Homo sapiens: one gene and its partner. The gene in region 2 interacts genetically with the main gene of each other region. Each region holds a gene or a part of one and is shown on either strand. Other genes may lie near its edges.

Region 1 (8,729 bases), on a different chromosome or scaffold from region 2:
GCTGAGGGGACTCAGCTTTGGAGGGACGGTGGGAGCAGGGGAGGGCTGAGGAGTACCTGTATGTGTGGAGCTGCCTGAGGCCTTGATGGAGCGTGATTCAGAAAGCAGTGCTGGGCCAGAGATGCCTGGTACACACCCCTCTCCATCACTCACAGAGCATGTGAGGACCTCCGTTTCCACTTCTGCAAGATGGGCATAGTGTTAGCGCTGCCTCATAGAATTGCTGTGAGGATGCAGGCTAGAGAGCCTTGGCCCAAGGCCTGGCATACAGTAGTTGCTGTGTAAGCATTAGTCTTGCTGCTGCTGCTGCTGCCACCCCACCACTGCCTGGGGAGGGCCTCAGAGACAGTGGAGGCCCTCGCTCCACCTGCCTCCTGGCTTTCTCTGGCAGCCACCCCATCCCTACCTGGCTCTGGCAGGGTCAGGGAGCCGGCACACTGCCAGGCAGCCCTCTGAGGCTGGCCCAGCCTCCCAGCCTTGCAGTGCCAGCTCACTCAGCATCTCAGGGTTTGGCACAGATAAAGAAGGATAGGGTTTGGGCATTGGAGACCCATATTCAGGTCCCTCCCTTGTCACTTACCAGCCATGGGACAAATGATTTATTTGCCACTTTTATTCCTTCAACACGTTTGGCTAGGGGAAAAAGGGCTTTCAGTATAATGAAACACTCATGCATCCGGCCATCGTCTGGCCTGGGACAGAACACACCGTGATACAGTTAGAGGCCAAGGGTCTCCTCCTCACCCCCCCTCCTCCCTCCCTTCCAGGGGCAGCCTCTGTCCTGGGTGTGGCAGTCACCATTCCTCTGCAGCCTTTCATACTTTGACTGCCCTTGAATGTATTCACCAACAGTAGAGCAACAGCTCTTGCCCCTGGCTGCACATTGCAACTCCCTGGAGAGCTTTGAAAAGATGCCTTGGCCCAGGCCCGCCATGGAAATTCTGCTTCCAACTTACTTGGTCTGGGCTGGGGCTGGCCTCAGGCTTTTGGAAGCTCCCTGGGCAGTTCTTATGGCCAGCAGGGGCTGACGACTGTTGTTTCACAGTTCAGATAAATGGTGTCACCATAAACATGCCTTTCTGCAAGTTGCTGTTTTTGTTCAACATTATAGGTATATTTGAGATGGGATCTTGCTATGTTGCCTAGACTGGACTCTTAACTCCTGGGCTCAAGCTATCCTCCCACCTCAGCCTCTGGAGTAGCTGGGATTACAGGCGCGCACACCTGCTCCCCGCTTTGAGCTGAGCATTGGAGTCTGGATGTCTCTTGGTGGGGATGTGTGTAGGCCTGGGACAGGCCATTTGTTTTTCCTGATGGTGTTTCTTTTTGTGATCGTGTCACACAGGAGTTGCCTGTTCACCTGTTGATGGCCACTGAGGTGGTCCGTTGGAGCTATAACCGTGCAGCAGTGGGCCTTCTGGAACGCGTGTTCCTGTAGACCATGGCCAGAGTCTCTCTGGCATATGCCTAGTAGTGGAAAAGCCGGAGCTCCCCGCTTTCCTAGCGGTTGCCAAGTCATGCCCCCAGTGGCTGGACCACTGTGCTCCCCAGCAGGCTCCGGGGCTCCCTTTATTTCAAGTCCTGCTTTGGGCAGCTTTGTGGCCCTCACTGAAACGATTTCCTCGGCCGTGACATGGGAGGTTTATGGGCCCACCCACCCACCCACCAGGCTGTTTGGAAACAGATGGGGAGATGGTTCACACAACTGGCTTAGCTGGGACCTCGTCCCCACTGACTCCCTACAACCACAGGAGAAGAAAGGATGGAAGGGCTTTCACCTTTACCCCCTTGGGCATCCAGGACGGTGACTGCAGCTTTGCCCCAACTGCCCTTGGGGGCAGGTGCCAGGGGTGACAGCTGGGAAAGAGAACTATACTGATTCGAACCTCTCAGGAGGGAGGCAGGGAGGACGGAGGTGAAAGTTGGAGGATGGGTGAGGCCTTGTAACATTCTTTCTGTGTATCTGACTGTTGGTCCCAGTGGTAACCAACACAGCCCAGCTCTACCCTTGTAGATTATAGTACAGTGAAGGAGACAGACCTGCTGTCCCCAGACGGTGACAGCCCAGAGAGGCCAGGGCTGTGAAGGAGAGGCCTAGGCGAGGGTCAGGGCGGGATGTGGGGGGGACCCAGGCAGAAGGGTCAGGGCGGGATGTGGGGGGGACCCAGGCAGAGGGGTCAGGGTGGGGTGGTGGGACCCAGGCAGATGGGTCATGGCGGGATGGGAGCGGGGACCCAGGCAGAGGGATCAGGGTGGGACTGGGGGGGACCCAGGCAGAGTGGTCAGAGAAGGATGGGGAAACCCAGGCAGAGGGGTCAGGGCGGGATGGGGAAACCCAGGCAGAGGGGTTGGGGCTGGATGGTGGGGAGGGGCACAGAGAGGGATTGGGACTGGGATGGAGGCGCAGGGACCGTAGGAAGCCCGAGGAGGCATGTGGCCCAGCGTGGGGAGTTGAGGAGGGCTTTCTGGATAAGATGACATCTGACTGATGAGAACATATGAGCGAGGCTGGAAGGAGGTGGAAAGAATGTAACAGGTCATGGGTACGGAAGTGCCAAGGCCCTGAGGGTCGGAATGACCTCGGAATGGTCGAGGATCATCAGATAGGCCGGTGTAGGCTATGCTGTGCACCCTGACTGTGTGGTAGCCTTGCTCTGCAAAGAGCAGTTAAAGAAATACATAAAATATAAAATAAATAAATAAATAAAAAAGCAAAAAAAAGAAGCCAGTGTGGCTGAGCAGGGGGTGGGGTCAGAGGCTTGGAGGCGGTGTTGGATACAGCAGGGCCTAGCAGAGCCAGGTGGGGTGTGTGGATTCCATTCTGTGCATAATGGGAAGTCATCAGAGGCTTTAGTGACATCTGGTTTTCCCCTTATAAAGATTGCTCAGGCTGCTGTGTGGGGGACGGATCGCGGGGGGTGGCGACAGGGAGGCTGTGGGGAGGCTGCTGTGACAGTCCAAGCAGAAGAGGGTGGAGAAGACGAGGGGACAGTGATGGAGGAGCGTCCTCGTGCCAGCTGAGGTCATCAGCGCTTTACCCCTGTTACCTCACTTCATCTTCACAGCAACCTGTGAAGTAGGTGCTAGTATCATCCTCACTCTAGAGATGAGAAAGGAGGCCCAGAGAGGTACGGGACTTGCTTAAGGTCACACAGCAGGCAGTGGCAGAGGTAGGATTGAACCCCAGGCCTTGGGGCTTCAGTGTCACTGATTACTGGGGCTGCCCTCCCGTGGTTTGGAACTGGCTCGGACAAGACAGGCCTGATTCCTGTTCAGCTGGTTCTTACCCAGGCTCCTTTGTTGACAGAAGTTCCGTGGAGACCTGTTCCCCCTGGGTAGTTTCTGGGCGCTGGGTCCCTACCTCCCTCAGGGCCTCCCTTTCCTTTCTCATCTACTCCTCGTCCCACTGGCTCGTGGTGAGCCAGACTTCCTGGCCAGACACCGGTCAGGGGTGTCCCCAGCAGCTGTTTCTCCCATCACCGAGCCCAGCCCCGCACATGCTGCCAGCAGGAAGCAACCTCCTTCCAAGTCATGGCCAGGGAAGTGGGACCCTTCCCGCCTAGTCACCCATCCGGGGCCAAGGCTTCTTGTCTGCCAGACGCCTTGGCCCACAGGAAGGTTGGAGGGGCCGAGGAGGGTGAGAAGGGGAACACTCTCCCATCCCAGGGGAGCCAGCGCTGGCGGATGCGACAGAAGCCACCGCTCACTGAAGCCTCTCTCCTGGGACCCTCCGGTCCTGCCCCGACCCTTCCCAGGCTGGGAGGCCATCTGCTGCCTTCCCGAGGGGCAGTGGAACTTCCCTGCCAGGGCTGCTCAGTCCACACACATCCCTTAGCCTTTTTCACTAGCTGGGAGCCCCTGGGGAAGAGACAAAGAACTTCCCTGGGCCTCTGATTCCTCACCTGTTACAGGGAGTATTGGTGGCCACCTCTCAGGGCTGTGGGAGGGCGGAAGATCATGTGTGTGCGTCGTGCTTAGCCCGATGCTCAGCACTCAGTAAGTGCTTGGTAAATGTTGAACTTGGTGCGTTCGATGGTTTCCGTCCCTTGCACCCTGTCCCCCTCTGGGTTCTCATCCCGTAGTGAGCTGTAATAACCCCAGCCCCCCGCCCGGGGTCCCAGCTCCACGTGCCAGGCACGCGTGTGCTGTGAGTCTATGAGCATGGTCATGTGGCTGTACCCAGAGACCCTGAGGAGGAGGTGTTTTTAACCTCGTTTCTCTTTTCCCGTGTTTCAATTTTCAGAAAGCACGTTTTTCCTCCATGTGCATGCATTACCTATTCCCCTAAATAATCACTGAAAAACTGCACACAGCACAAAAGGATGTACAGGGACGAGCAAATCTCTTTCCCACCCGCCTGCCAGGCCCTTCCCAGAGATAGCATCATCACCCCCGGTTTCTTTTCTTTCTTTCTTGAAATATTTGTTCCCCCAAGTGCCCGCCCCTCCCTTTTGTTTTTACTCAAATGGAGCGGACTTCCCATGTTTATATTCTGTCCTGTGCTTTGCGTTTCCCACTCCGAAGCTCGCTGTCAGGACACAGAGTGCCGCCTCGTGTCCCACGCACACGCGTGCCCCCACGGACAGCACAGCCATTCTGTGCTGATGGCCATCAGGCCATTCCCATCTTTCCGTGCTGTGAACAGGGCTGCGCCCGCCTGAGTGTGGCTGTGCATATGTCTCTAGGTGTGAGTCTGAGCTTGTGGCCTCGTGGTCTGAGACAGGTGCCCCGTTAACTTTGCCGGTAGTGTTAGTGTTTCACCCTGCTGGGGAGGTTGTCTGGCTCACACTCCCACCCCCCAGTGTCTGATGACACCGGGGTTTCCTCACTCCCTTGCTGGAATAGACGGGTGTCACCTGACATTCTCACCTTTGCCAGTCAGATAGGTGACAAACAGTCTCATCATGGTTCTGATTTTAATCAGAGCAAAGTGGGACAGCTTTGTGTTGTTGAAAGCCATCTTGAGCTTCCTTTTCTTGGAGCTGTCTATTCCTGATAATTTTACTTTCTCTGAGAAGGGGAAACTGAGGCACAGGCCAGCAGTCCCACAGCAAATACGTGGCAGATGTGGCACTCAAACCTTGGCTCCGTTCTGGAGCTCCTAACCCATCTGACACAGAAGAGGTCAAGGGCTTGGCCTCCGGAGCCAGCTTTGTCTCTTACTAGCAGTGTGACCCCAGACAAGTCACATCACCTCTCTGTGCCCGGGTGTCCTCATCTGTAAAATGAGGGTGCTAATGATATCTACTCTTAGAGTTGTTTTGAGGATCTAAATGTATATTCGGCAGGCAAAATGTATAGTAAGTGCTCAAAGACTGTTAGCTGCGTTACTAATAGCCGTATTATTAATATTATAGCTATGTCACCAATAGCCATGTTATTAATATGAGCAGGCACTGTTTGAGTGCTTTCTGTGAACTAACCTACTGGACCCTCCCATCAACTCCAAGACACACGTGTTCTTAGGATCTCCCTTTTCTAGGGAGGAGACTGAGAGCCTGGGGGACCTGGCCCCGTCACAGAGCAAGAGGAACTGGGATTTGGATGCTGGAGGCCTGGCTGGTAATCGCTGTGGCCGCTTCCCCTGCTACCCGGGGCTAAGCCTGAGGGTTACAAAGCTCTCCCTCCTGCTTCCCCCACCCACCTTCTGCTGTCTGCATTCCAGGCAGGCTGCCCAGGAGCTTTCGAGCAGACACCTTGAGGGTTGGGAGCACCGGGTGGGCAGGGTCCTCACCTAGAGAGCTCCCCGTCCCAGACCCTCCCTGCTCCTGCCACCTGTCCTGGGAACTCCTGATAAAGCAGCATTGTGCAGCGGTTTTGAGTTCACTTCCCAGCCCGGTTTTGCCACTCCCACACTTCACTCCCAGAGGCGGAAGGCGGCCGGTCTTCCTGGGCTGCGTGGGGTGCCAGCCCCCCTCCCCTTCCCTTCCCTCCCTCACTGCGCCCACAGTCACCGGTCAGCACTGGCCATGGGGAGAAAGTAGGACCCTGCGGGCCACTGGCCCCTCCACAGACCCGTCCCCAGGTGAAGACCCCTCCCTGCCCTCCCCACAGGAGGCCCCTGTCCTTCTCTCCCGAGGAACCCTCCTTCCCTGCCGCCCACAGGGGCCTCCATAGTTCTGTCGTCCCTTCCCCGCAAATCTTCCACTGCAGCCTGGGCCCACGTTATTTGACTCTCAAATGCTATATATATACACAGCGCTTCTAACTCCACTGCTTTTAAAAAACCTTTAATAATTGTCAATTATAATATGCCCATAGAAAAGTGCATAAAATGCACAGGTAAGTTTAGCAAAGAATTACAAAGTGAACAACGCTTCCCCACCACCTCGGTAAAGACAGAACACAACCTCCCAAAAGCCGCCTGCCCATAACCCCTGTCCATCACGACCACAGTCGTGAGTGCTCTCCTGACCTTGGTGGTCACTGTGTCCTTGCTTTTCCTGATAGTTTTTACCATGAGGTATGCATCCTTGAATTACAGAATGTCATCTTGCCTGCTTTTGAACTTGACATAAATGGAATCTTCCAGTATGTCCTTGTCTGTGCTTTCTTTCGCCCTTAGGCCTGTGAGATCCATCTGTGTGCTGAGTGTATCTGTAGTCATTCATCTTTGTTGCTGTATAATATTCTTTTTTTTTCTTTGACACAGAGTCTCGCTCTGTCACCCAGGCTGGAGTGCAGTGGTGCAATCTTGGCTCACTGCAGCCTCTGCCTCCTGGGTTCAAGCGATTCACCTGCCTCAGCCTCCCGAGTAACTGGGATTACAGGCATACACCGCTATGCCTGGCTAATTTTTTTTTTTAATTTTTAGTAGAGAGGGGGTTTCACCACGTTGGCCAGGCGAGTCTTGAACTCTTGACCTCAGGTGATCCACCCACCTCAGCTTCCCAAAGTGCCGGCATTACAGGCGTGAGCCACTGTGCCCAGCCCCATATAATATTCTGTTCCTCCATCTCCTGCTGCGCTGATGCGAGCCATCTCTTTGTAGCATCTCCTGGGGTGCCGGTGCCTGCGTTTCTTCAGGGAATATACCCAGGAGTGCGTAGCCCAGGGCAGAGGGTGGGGTAGCTTCAGATTTAGTGGGCGCTGCCACACAGCCTCCCAAGGTGGTCAAATCTGTGTATCCTCCTAGCGGTGGTGACTGAGGATCTTAGTTGCTCCACCTCCTCACCAACATTTGGTACCGTCAGACTTTTTGGTTGACCTTGGAACATTTTTATTCTTTTTTCCTGCAAAAGTAACACCACTGGTTATCATCGGGCTGAGCCCCTCATGTTATTTTGTCCTCCCCTTGCTCCTGTCCATTCCGACTCTCACCCATTCTGTGGACAGGAGTCAAGTGCTTATTCTTTTTTTTTTTTTTTTTTTTTTTTTTTTTGAGATGGAGCCTTGCTCTGTCACCAGGGCTGGAGTGCAGCAGCGCGATCTCAGCTCACTGCAACCTCCGCTTCCCAGATCCAAGCCATTCTCCTCCCTCACCCCCTCAAGTAGCTGGGATTACAGGCATGTGCCACCACGCACGGCTAATTTTGTATTTTTAGTAGAGACAGGGTTTTACCATGTTGGCCAGGCAGGTCTCAAACTCCTGACTTCAAGGGATCCACCTGCCTCAGCCTCCCAAGGTGCTGGGATTACAGACGTGAGCCACTGCGCCCTGCCCAAGCGTGTATTCTTTGACCAGCTTTGCGCTGGGGCCCAGCGACTGAAGGGTGAACCCAAACAACAGGCAGCCCTCCCCGAGCTCAGTCCAGTGGGAACACAGACCTCGACTGCAGAGCAACAGAAAGATAAGCCGGGCTGGAGGCTCCCGGCCCCCATCTTCCCACAGTGACCCCATTTTGGGAACAGGAACCCCCATCCCTCGTCTTGTTTCGGGATTAGGCTTCTCCAAATCTGGCACCCTATCACCTTGACTCCTCTCTTGCCCCCCCGCCACATCCAAAGTGTCTGGAAAGCCTGTCACTCTACATGACAATGTAACCTGGTGCTGCGGGCTCCTCTTCCTTGTCACTCCCCTTCCTCGTCATCCCCCTTCTTCGTCACCCCCCTTCCTCGCCACCCCCTTCCTGGTCACACCTCTTCCTCGTCACCCTTCTTCCTTGTCACCCCTCTTCCTCGTCACCCCCCTTCCTCATCATCCCCCTTCCTCGTTACCCCCCTTCCTTGTTACCCTTCTTCCTCGTGGCCCCCTAGTTCAAGCCACCCTCATCTCCCTCCTGGACCATTGAGGCGTGCTCCCTGCTCCCTTCTCCCCCACTGTCCCCACAGTTGTCCGCACACAGCCAGAGGTAGCCGTGCACACCTGGTCAGGGCAGGAACCCTCCCCTGGCTCCACCTCTCCCAGCAGAGAAGCTTGCAAGGTCCCAGGCAACCTGGCCACTTTCCTGCCTGCCCTGCTTCCCTCTTCTCCTGCCACCATTCCTGGAACATTCCAGGCAGGTCCTACCCCGGGGCCTTTGTTCTTGCTGCCCCCTGGGCAGGCAGCACCCTCCTTCCTTCTGTTCAGTCAGCCTCTGCTGACAGTGGCCCCCTTGGGGAGATGTTTCTTCCCGACCATGGGTCCCCAGGAGCAGCCCCTGTCACCCTCCCTCTAGCACCTTCCCCCGGTAACCCTCATGATGGTTACTTCCATTATGACATGTGGGTCTGTTGGTTTATTTTGTCTCCCGGCATAACGTAGCCTCAGGGCATGGGGGTAGGGGTAGAACCACAGGGCCTTGCCCTGC
Region 2 (7,987 bases):
TCACCTGAACACTTAGAGGCCATTGTAGAGTTATTAACTGGCCTCATTTTGATATTGTTGATTGTAGGGTCTAGGGAGGCCCACAGAAAGGGAGAGAAATGAGGAATGGCCAGTCAGTTGGTAAAGCAGTCAGAACACACACATTTACAAGGGTGATTTAGTTCACCCTTGTATATGGGCACAGTTTGTTTTCACTCACGTCCATCTGAAGAGACCACCAAACAGGCTTTCTGTGAGCAACAAGGCTGTTTATTTCACCTGGGTGCAGGCGGGTTGAGTCCAAAAGGAGAGTCAGCGAAGGGAGATAGGGGTGGGGCCGTTTTATAGGATTTGGGTAGGTAAAGGAAAATTACAGTCAAAGGGGAGTTGTTCTCTGGCGGGCAGGGGTGGGGGGTCACAAGGTGCTCAGCAGGGGAGCTTTTGAGCCAGGATGAGCCAGGAGAAGGAATTCCACAAGGTAATGTCATCAGTTAAGGCAGGGACTGGCCATTTTCACTTCTTTTGTGGTGGAATGTCATCAGTTAAGGCAGGAACAGGCCATCTGGATGTATACGTGCAGGTCACAGGGGATATGATGGCTTAGCTTGGGCTTGGAGGCCTGACATTTGTGGCACTTCAAAACAATTAACTAGTAAGATCAGAGATCACTGATCACAGATCACTATAACAGATATAATAACAATGAAAAATTTGGAAATATGGCAAGAATTACCAAAATGTGACACGGAGACAGGAAGTGAGCACATGCTAATGGAAAAATGACATCAGTAAGCTTGCTTGACGCAGGGTAGTCACAAACCTTCAATTTGCAAAATTGCTATCTCTGCACAGCACAGTAGGGCAAAGTGTGAATAAAATGAGGTAACCTGTACCTCCAGCTAAAGTCCCAGAATTAACTTTCCTTGGCTCCAGTGGATTCACAAGCCGGTATCTGAATCATCACCTCACCAAGATGCCTGGATCTGCCTTTTAGCCCAGCTTGGGTCACATTGCCACTGTGGAGCCAGGAGGTGGGTCACATCTGCTGAATTCAGACCTAGAGTTGGGGAGAAGTAGCTTCCCAATGGGAAACTAAGGGGCAGCTACTAAAAGTAGGAGGACAGGGTCTTGGGAAGGCTTACATGGCACACGGCCACTACCTCCCTCAATGCTCTGTCCCCTGCTTAGTGTCCCGCACTGTAATTTCTGCCTCTTCATCAATAAAACACCACCTTAATGCCACTGTACCCCAGCACCAAAAACAGTGTTCATCAAAAACTTCCCGAATAAATGACAGAATTCATGTCATATCGCGACGTCTTCTAATCACAGCCTGCGTAGTTTTCTGGGGCTGCTGTAAAAAAGCACTACAGACTGGGTGGCTTACAACAGAAATTTATTCTCTCAGAGCTCTGAGACTAGAAGTCCAAAACCAACATGTCAGCAGGGCCACGCTCCCTCTGAAGCCTCTGGGGGAAGAATTCCTTCTTGTCTCTTCTAGCTTCTGGGTTGCAGGCAACTCCTTGGGTTGCAGGCATTGCTCCAATTTCTGCCTCCATGGTCACATGGAGTTCTTCTTGCTGTGTGTCTCTGTGTCCAAAGTTTTGTCTTCTTATCATGACAACAGGCTTTGGATTAGAGCCCACTCATCTTAACTTGATTGTATCTGCAAAGACCCTATTTCCATGTGAGGGCACAGTCACAGGCATTGGGACTTGAACATATCTTTTTGGCAACACAATTATATCCACTAAACAGCATTTTTGCATCTATATTAAGAATGACTAAAAGATGCTGCAGTAACAAACATATCCCAAAAGCTCCATGGTTCGTTGCCTAAGAGTTTGTTTTTCACTTACGAAGTCTGTAGTGGGTCTGGTTGCTTTCATTTTACGACTTTGCTAGATCAACACAGGGCTCCCAGGGTTACCGTGGCAGGGGAAGAGAGATATACAGGAGTGCACAGGGGCCCTGGAGCATATTGCATGTGCTCACCAACAAGCCCATTATCATCAGATACTGCCTGTTCTCTCCTCGTCCCCTGGGCCATTCTAGGCCCCAAGTGAGGGTTCTTGGATCTCACACAAGAAGGAATTTGAGGCAAGTCCATAAAGTGAAAGCAAGTTTATTAAGAAAGTAAGGGAATAAAAGAATGGCTATTTCATCGGCAGATCAGCCCCAAAAGCTGCTGGTTGCCCATTTTTATGGTTATTTCTTGATTATATGCTAAACAAGGGGTAAATTATTCATGCTTCTGCCTTTTAGGCCGTATAGGATAACTTCCTGACGTTGCCATGGCATATGTAAACAGTCGTGGCGCTGGTGGGAGTGTGGCAGTAAGGCTGACCAGAGGTTTTTCTCATCATCATCTTGGTTTTGGTGGGTCTTGGCCAGCTTCTTTACTGCAACCTGTTTTATCAGCAAGGTCTTTATGACCTGTATCTTGTGCCAGCCTCCTATCTCATTTCGTGATTAGGATTGCCTTAATTTACTGGTAATGCAGGCCAGCAGGTCTTAGTCTAACCCCTATTCAAGATGGAGTTGCTCTGGTTCCAATGCCTCTGACATAGTCATTGCTGGGCACAGAAGCCTCTCTCTCACTGAGTGCTGCTTCTGCAGCCATTGCCATCTCTGAATGGGCACCAAGCCCCACACTGGAAACCGATACCCTTGGAATGCCAAAACCACAGAGGCTGTGAAGAGGTACAGTCAAAGCTGCCCTCTGCCAGAGGAGCTCCAAAGCATGTTATGCAGACTCCAGAGACTTTCTGAAAAGGTTAAAACTCAAATTGGGCAAGTGTAAATGAACAACACCTAGTGAAGGGAGTCACATACAAGGCAATACAATAGAGAGTGGTGAGGACTGTGGCAAACCAAAGTATGTGCCTCATCTAAAGGGAGCAGTCACTACTCAACTTCAGCAAATTATTGCCATATGGAAACTGGCATCCAGTATTGCCAGATTTTTGGGAAATTTTTTTAAAAAAAGAAAACCAGAAAGTCAGATTTTTACATGAAGTTTCCCAAATTTCAAAATGCTGTTCAGGCTGGATTTAGCCCACAGGCCACGAGTTTGCAGCCCCTGCTTTAGTGAGATAACTTTTTCCATTTTCACTCTCAGCTCTCAGCTCTCCAACTTGGCTCTCTGGCTATCCACAGGACGTGGACATGAGCCCAGTGGGGCTGGGCCAGGAGGCAATCCCCCTTCCCAACTGACCTCAGTCTCGCCCTCTCCAAAACAGCCAAGGTTTGTCACTGGGTCAGGCTGAAGGGCCTGGCTCCCTCCTGCGGGGCAAGGTCCCTCCCAAGAGGGTCCTTTAAAACTGACTCTGGAAAGTCAGAGCACACACCCACCAGACAAGCCTGAACTTGTCTGAAGCCCACTGAGACCCAAGCCGCAGAGACTTTTCTAGCTGTGATGATCAAGACATAATCGTGACCTCCAATGCCCCCCACAAGTATATTGCTCCTGATTCTTTCAGCCCCTGACCTTACTTCTCAAACTGTTCCCTGCTGACCCCCAGTCCTATCTGCCCCCTTCCTAGGCTGGTCCTTACTGACCCCTCCAGCTCCATCCCCTCACCCTGTGCCCCACCTTTTTCAGATAGAAAAAACTTTCTTCTCCAGTGCCTCTTGCTGTTTTTCATCTCTGGGCCATTGTCAATGTTCCCTAAAACATTCCCCATATTCCCCACCCAGCACTCCACCTCTTTAGCTCTTCAGGTCTCAGCTCAGAAGTCACTTCTTCCAGGAAGCCTTCCTTGATTGTCTTTACTAGTTTAGGGGCTGAAGTCAGGCGTTCCCAACAGCCTGCTGGAGTTCCCCATCACAGCTTATCTCTCAACTGTCTTTCCTGAGAGAGGGAGAAGACATTCCTCAGAGACGGTTGTCACAGGGAGAACTTCAAAATTGGGATTCGACCTGAGAGGCCACATGGATTCTTGGCTTGGCGCAGGAAAGGATTCAAGAGTGAGTGGGGAATTCGTGGAACTGAGGGCTCCTCCCCTTTTTAGACCATATAGGGTAAACCTCCCCACATTGCCATGGCATTTATAAACTGCCATGGCACTGGTGGGTGCTTCCTTTAACATGCTAATGCATTATAATTAGCGTAAAATGAGCAGTGAGGATGACCAGAGGTCGCTTTCTTTGCCATCTTGGTTTTGGCTGGCTTCTTCACTGCATACTGTTTTATCAGTGGGGTCTTTGTGACCTCTATCTTATTAAACCAGTCTTGCCCAATTTCTATCTCATCCTGTGACCGAGAATGCGGACCCTCCTGGGAGTGCAGCCCAGCAGGTCTCAGCCTCATTTTACCCAGCCCCCTGTTCAAGATGGAGTCGCTCTGGTTCCAACGTCTCTAACGCGGGGCCCCTGACTGCTCTATTTCCCAAGGTGTATCTAGCATCTCGCACTATACGAGGCCAAGTTAAGGCTTACACATTTGCAGAAGGAAAGAGGTAAGGAAGCAACCTGGGACCTTCCACTGTCTCTGTTTCCATCTCTCTCTTTCCATCTCTGTTCATCCCAGAATCTCTCTGTCCCTATCCCTAAATATCGAAAATTTCTGTCTCTGACCATCTATCATTGTGGCTGATCATCTGTTTCTGACCATTCCTTCCCGTTCCTGACCCCAGGGAGTGCAGGGTGTCCTAGCCAAGCCGGCGTCCCTCCTAGTAGTACCGCTGCTCTCTAACCTCAGGACGTCAAGGGCCTAGAGCGACAGATGTTTCCCAGCAGGGGGTTCTGAGGCTGTGCGCCCAGATCGCGAGAGAGGCAAGTGGGGTGACGAGGTCGTGCACTGAGGGTGGACGTAGAGGCCAGGAGTAGCAGGCGGCCGGGGAAAAGAGGTGGAGAAAGGAAAAAAGAGGAGAAAAGTGGAGGAGGGCGAGTAGGGGGGTGGGGCAGAGAGGGGCGGGCCCGAGTGCGCCCCCCGCCCCCAGCCCCGCTCTGCCAGCTCCCTCCCAGCCCAGCCGGCTACATCTGGCGGCTGCCCTCCCTTGTTTCCGCTGCATCCAGACTTCCTCAGGCGGTGGCTGGAGGCTGCGCATCTGGGGCTTTAAACATACAAAGGGATTGCCAGGACCTGCGGCGGCGGCGGCGGCGGCGGGGGCTGGGGCGCGGGGGCCGGACCATGAGCCGCTGAGCCGGGCAAACCCCAGGCCACCGAGCCAGCGGACCCTCGGAGCGCAGCCCTGCGCCGCGGAGCAGGCTCCAACCAGGCGGCGAGGCGGCCACACGCACCGAGCCAGCGACCCCCGGGCGACGCGCGGGGCCAGGGAGCGCTACGATGGAGGCGCTAATGGCCCGGGGCGCGCTCACGGGTCCCCTGAGGGCGCTCTGTCTCCTGGGCTGCCTGCTGAGCCACGCCGCCGCCGCGCCGTCGCCCATCATCAAGTTCCCCGGCGATGTCGCCCCCAAAACGGACAAAGAGTTGGCAGTGGTGAGTTGCTGCGCTGGCCTCAAGGAACCACGTTTAGACAAACTTCGGAGGCAAAGGATGGGGGTGTCTCTCCCCCTGCCCTCGGCGGTGGGCACACAGCGTGGGGGAGGGGCTTCGGTAAACAGCTTGGGGGGTCTTTGGCAAGCTATTGGAGTGATCTCTTGCAAACGGTGGGGGATCTTTTGTAAGCAAAGAAAACCTTTGATAAACAATTTGGCAACCTTCAGCATACAGCAGTGGGGCGAAAAACAAGCCAGAGAGTGGGAGAGGGGTGACCTGGCAAACTACTGGAAAGGGACTCTTATGTAAATAGCGGGGACATCCTCTAGTATCTGGGACATTTGGCGGGGGGGGGGGGCGGTCTTTGTAAACAACTTTTGGACACATCTGGGCAGTTGCTAAGGGCTCTTGCCAAGCGTCTAGGTAAGCCTTTGGCAAACAGCTACAGGGGTCGTTTTTGCTAATGTAGGACTTTGGGAACGGTGCTCTGGCACACAATTTGGGTAAACTTATGCGCGCATAAGGATGGGAGGGAGCTTGGTCAAAGCGGGGCTTGGCAAATTTCTAGGAACCTTCGGCACAGATCCGGAGAGGGACCTTTAAACAAACAGCTCGAGGGGGCCATTTGGGAAGTGATTGGGGCAGGAGGGAAGCAGAGAGCGCATCTTTTTTCTCCTGGCTTAATGGACAAATTGGTCAAGGGCTGGGCCTCGGAAAGTTTCCTCGAACTTCTCCAAAGGGTCGGAGAAAAGAAGGAGAGAGCTGGCCCGGCAGGAGGGAGGAGGAGTGGGGCAGGCGCTGGAGGGCCCGGCGCGTGGGGCGGGGGCGGACTGCGCTCCGCTCGGGTCGGAGAGCGGCCAGAGAGCCCTCCTTCCTGGCTGGGCTCCCAAACCGCGGTTCAGATGTTGTCTTGTGAGCGTGCGCGCGCCTGGCTGGAGGGGCACTGAGCCTGGCCGCAGTGTTGCGTAAGTAGGGCCTGAGGAGAGAGGCAGGCCAGGGACCCATCAAGATGTCCTTTCCAGTCCAGGGGATATCTGCTCCCTTGTTGCTTCAGCCACCCTGCCCTCCAGCCTCCCCCTCAACCTGTCCGGGAGAAGACGCCCATGCCCTCTGGTCACCCTAGGAACTCCTTCAGGAGGTGACAACTACCCTCTCCCAACTCTCACCCTTCCAAACAGCTAGGTCTCAGCCCCCTCTGGATAGATGGGTTGGGAAACCTCCATACATTTTTAGAGGGCTACTTTTTTCAAGGATCTGGAGCTGGCTGGCATAATGATGTGGCTGTTGGGTGGGGGTGAGAGTGGAGCTTTGGGACAATGACAAAGCTACTTGGTTTCCTACACCTTTTCCAGCCAATGGGTCACAGGATGAACCCCTAAATTGGGGTTCAGCCTGGGGGCCACATGGGTTCTTGGCTTGCACAGGAAGGAATTCAAGAGCGAGCCAACAGAGTAAAGTGAAAACAAATTTATTAAGAAGGTAAAGGAATAAAAGGGTGATTATTCCATAGACAGAGCAGGGAATGGGCTGCTGGACTGAGTATACATATGGTTATTTCTTGATTATATGCTAAACAAGGGGTGGATTATTTAAGAGTTTTCCAGAAAAAGGGTGGGGAGTTCCTGGAACCGAGGGTTTCTCTCCCTTTTAGACCATATAGGGTAACTTCTCAATGTTGCTATGGCATTTATAAACTGTCACAGCGCTGGTGGGAGTGTCTAATGTATTTAACATGCTAATACATTATAATTAGCATATAATGAGCAGTGAGGACGACTAGAGGTCACTTTCATTGCAGTCTTGGTTTGGGTGGGCTTTCTCCAGCTTCTTTACTGCATCCTGTTTTATCATAGGGGTCTTTGTGACCCGAACTGTATATGGTGAAATCAGTCCTACCAACCTCCTGTCTCATTCTGTGACTAAGAATGCATGCCTGCCCTCCTGGGAATGAAGCACAGCAGGTCTCAGCCTCATCTTACCCAGCCCCCCACTCAAGATGGAGGTGCCTGGTTTGAACACCTCTGACAAATGGAAGTCTGTGTTGTCCAGAGGCAATGCAGTGGGGGCTTAAGAAGATAACTCTGGACTTAGACCGCTTGGCTTCAAATCAAAGAGTGCATGAACCAACCAGCTGGCCTAGTGATGATGTTAGGCAAGTGACTTCTCAGTTTCTTCATCTGCAAACTGGGAAATTTCCTATCTCAGGGTTAAAAGAGAGGTAATCTTAGGTGCTTACCTAGCACATGGTAAGTACTCAATAAGCACTAGCCATTATTCTATTATATTATTATTATTGTTATGTCCTCCATTTCCCCTTTCCTAACTACTTCCAACAAGGCTAGGACCGTTGTCAGAAGATCTCCTGGCTCCTTTCAACATTCTAACACAGTACTTATCACATACTTCATTTTGTTTTATTTGGGATCTATCAGCCTCCCTGCTAGGATTTGAACCTTAGAGACAGAATTGTCTATCTTTTTCACCTGTTTTTCCTCAGCAGTAGCACTGGGCTTGGTACATGGTAGGTATTAAAAAGTATTTGTTGAATAAATAAATGAGTCGGTT

The links. A genetic interaction does not mean that the proteins touch.
Region 1: changes in MMP2 (region 2) and PAK4 impair growth when combined (synthetic growth defect), as found in Homo sapiens cells (one study listed by BioGRID).

What each region holds. Positions count from the first base shown.
Region 1 is NC_000019.10:39,127,973-39,136,701, forward strand, and holds part of PAK4 (serine/threonine-protein kinase PAK 4), read left to right. Parts: intron 1-6,214; exon of another isoform or gene 6,215-7,232; intron 7,233-8,449; exon of another isoform or gene 8,450-8,591; intron 8,592-8,729. UniProt on the Homo sapiens protein: Serine/threonine-protein kinase that plays a role in a variety of different signaling pathways including cytoskeleton regulation, cell adhesion turnover, cell migration, growth, proliferation or cell survival.
Region 2 is NC_000016.10:55,474,211-55,482,197, forward strand, and holds the start of MMP2 (72 kDa type IV collagenase isoform 1 preproprotein), read left to right. Parts: upstream 1-4,987; 5' UTR 4,988-5,269; coding exon 5,270-5,422; intron 5,423-5,787; exon of another isoform or gene 5,788-5,845; intron 5,846-6,322; exon of another isoform or gene 6,323-6,387; intron 6,388-7,346; exon of another isoform or gene 7,347-7,665; coding exon of another isoform or gene 7,666-7,668; intron 7,669-7,987.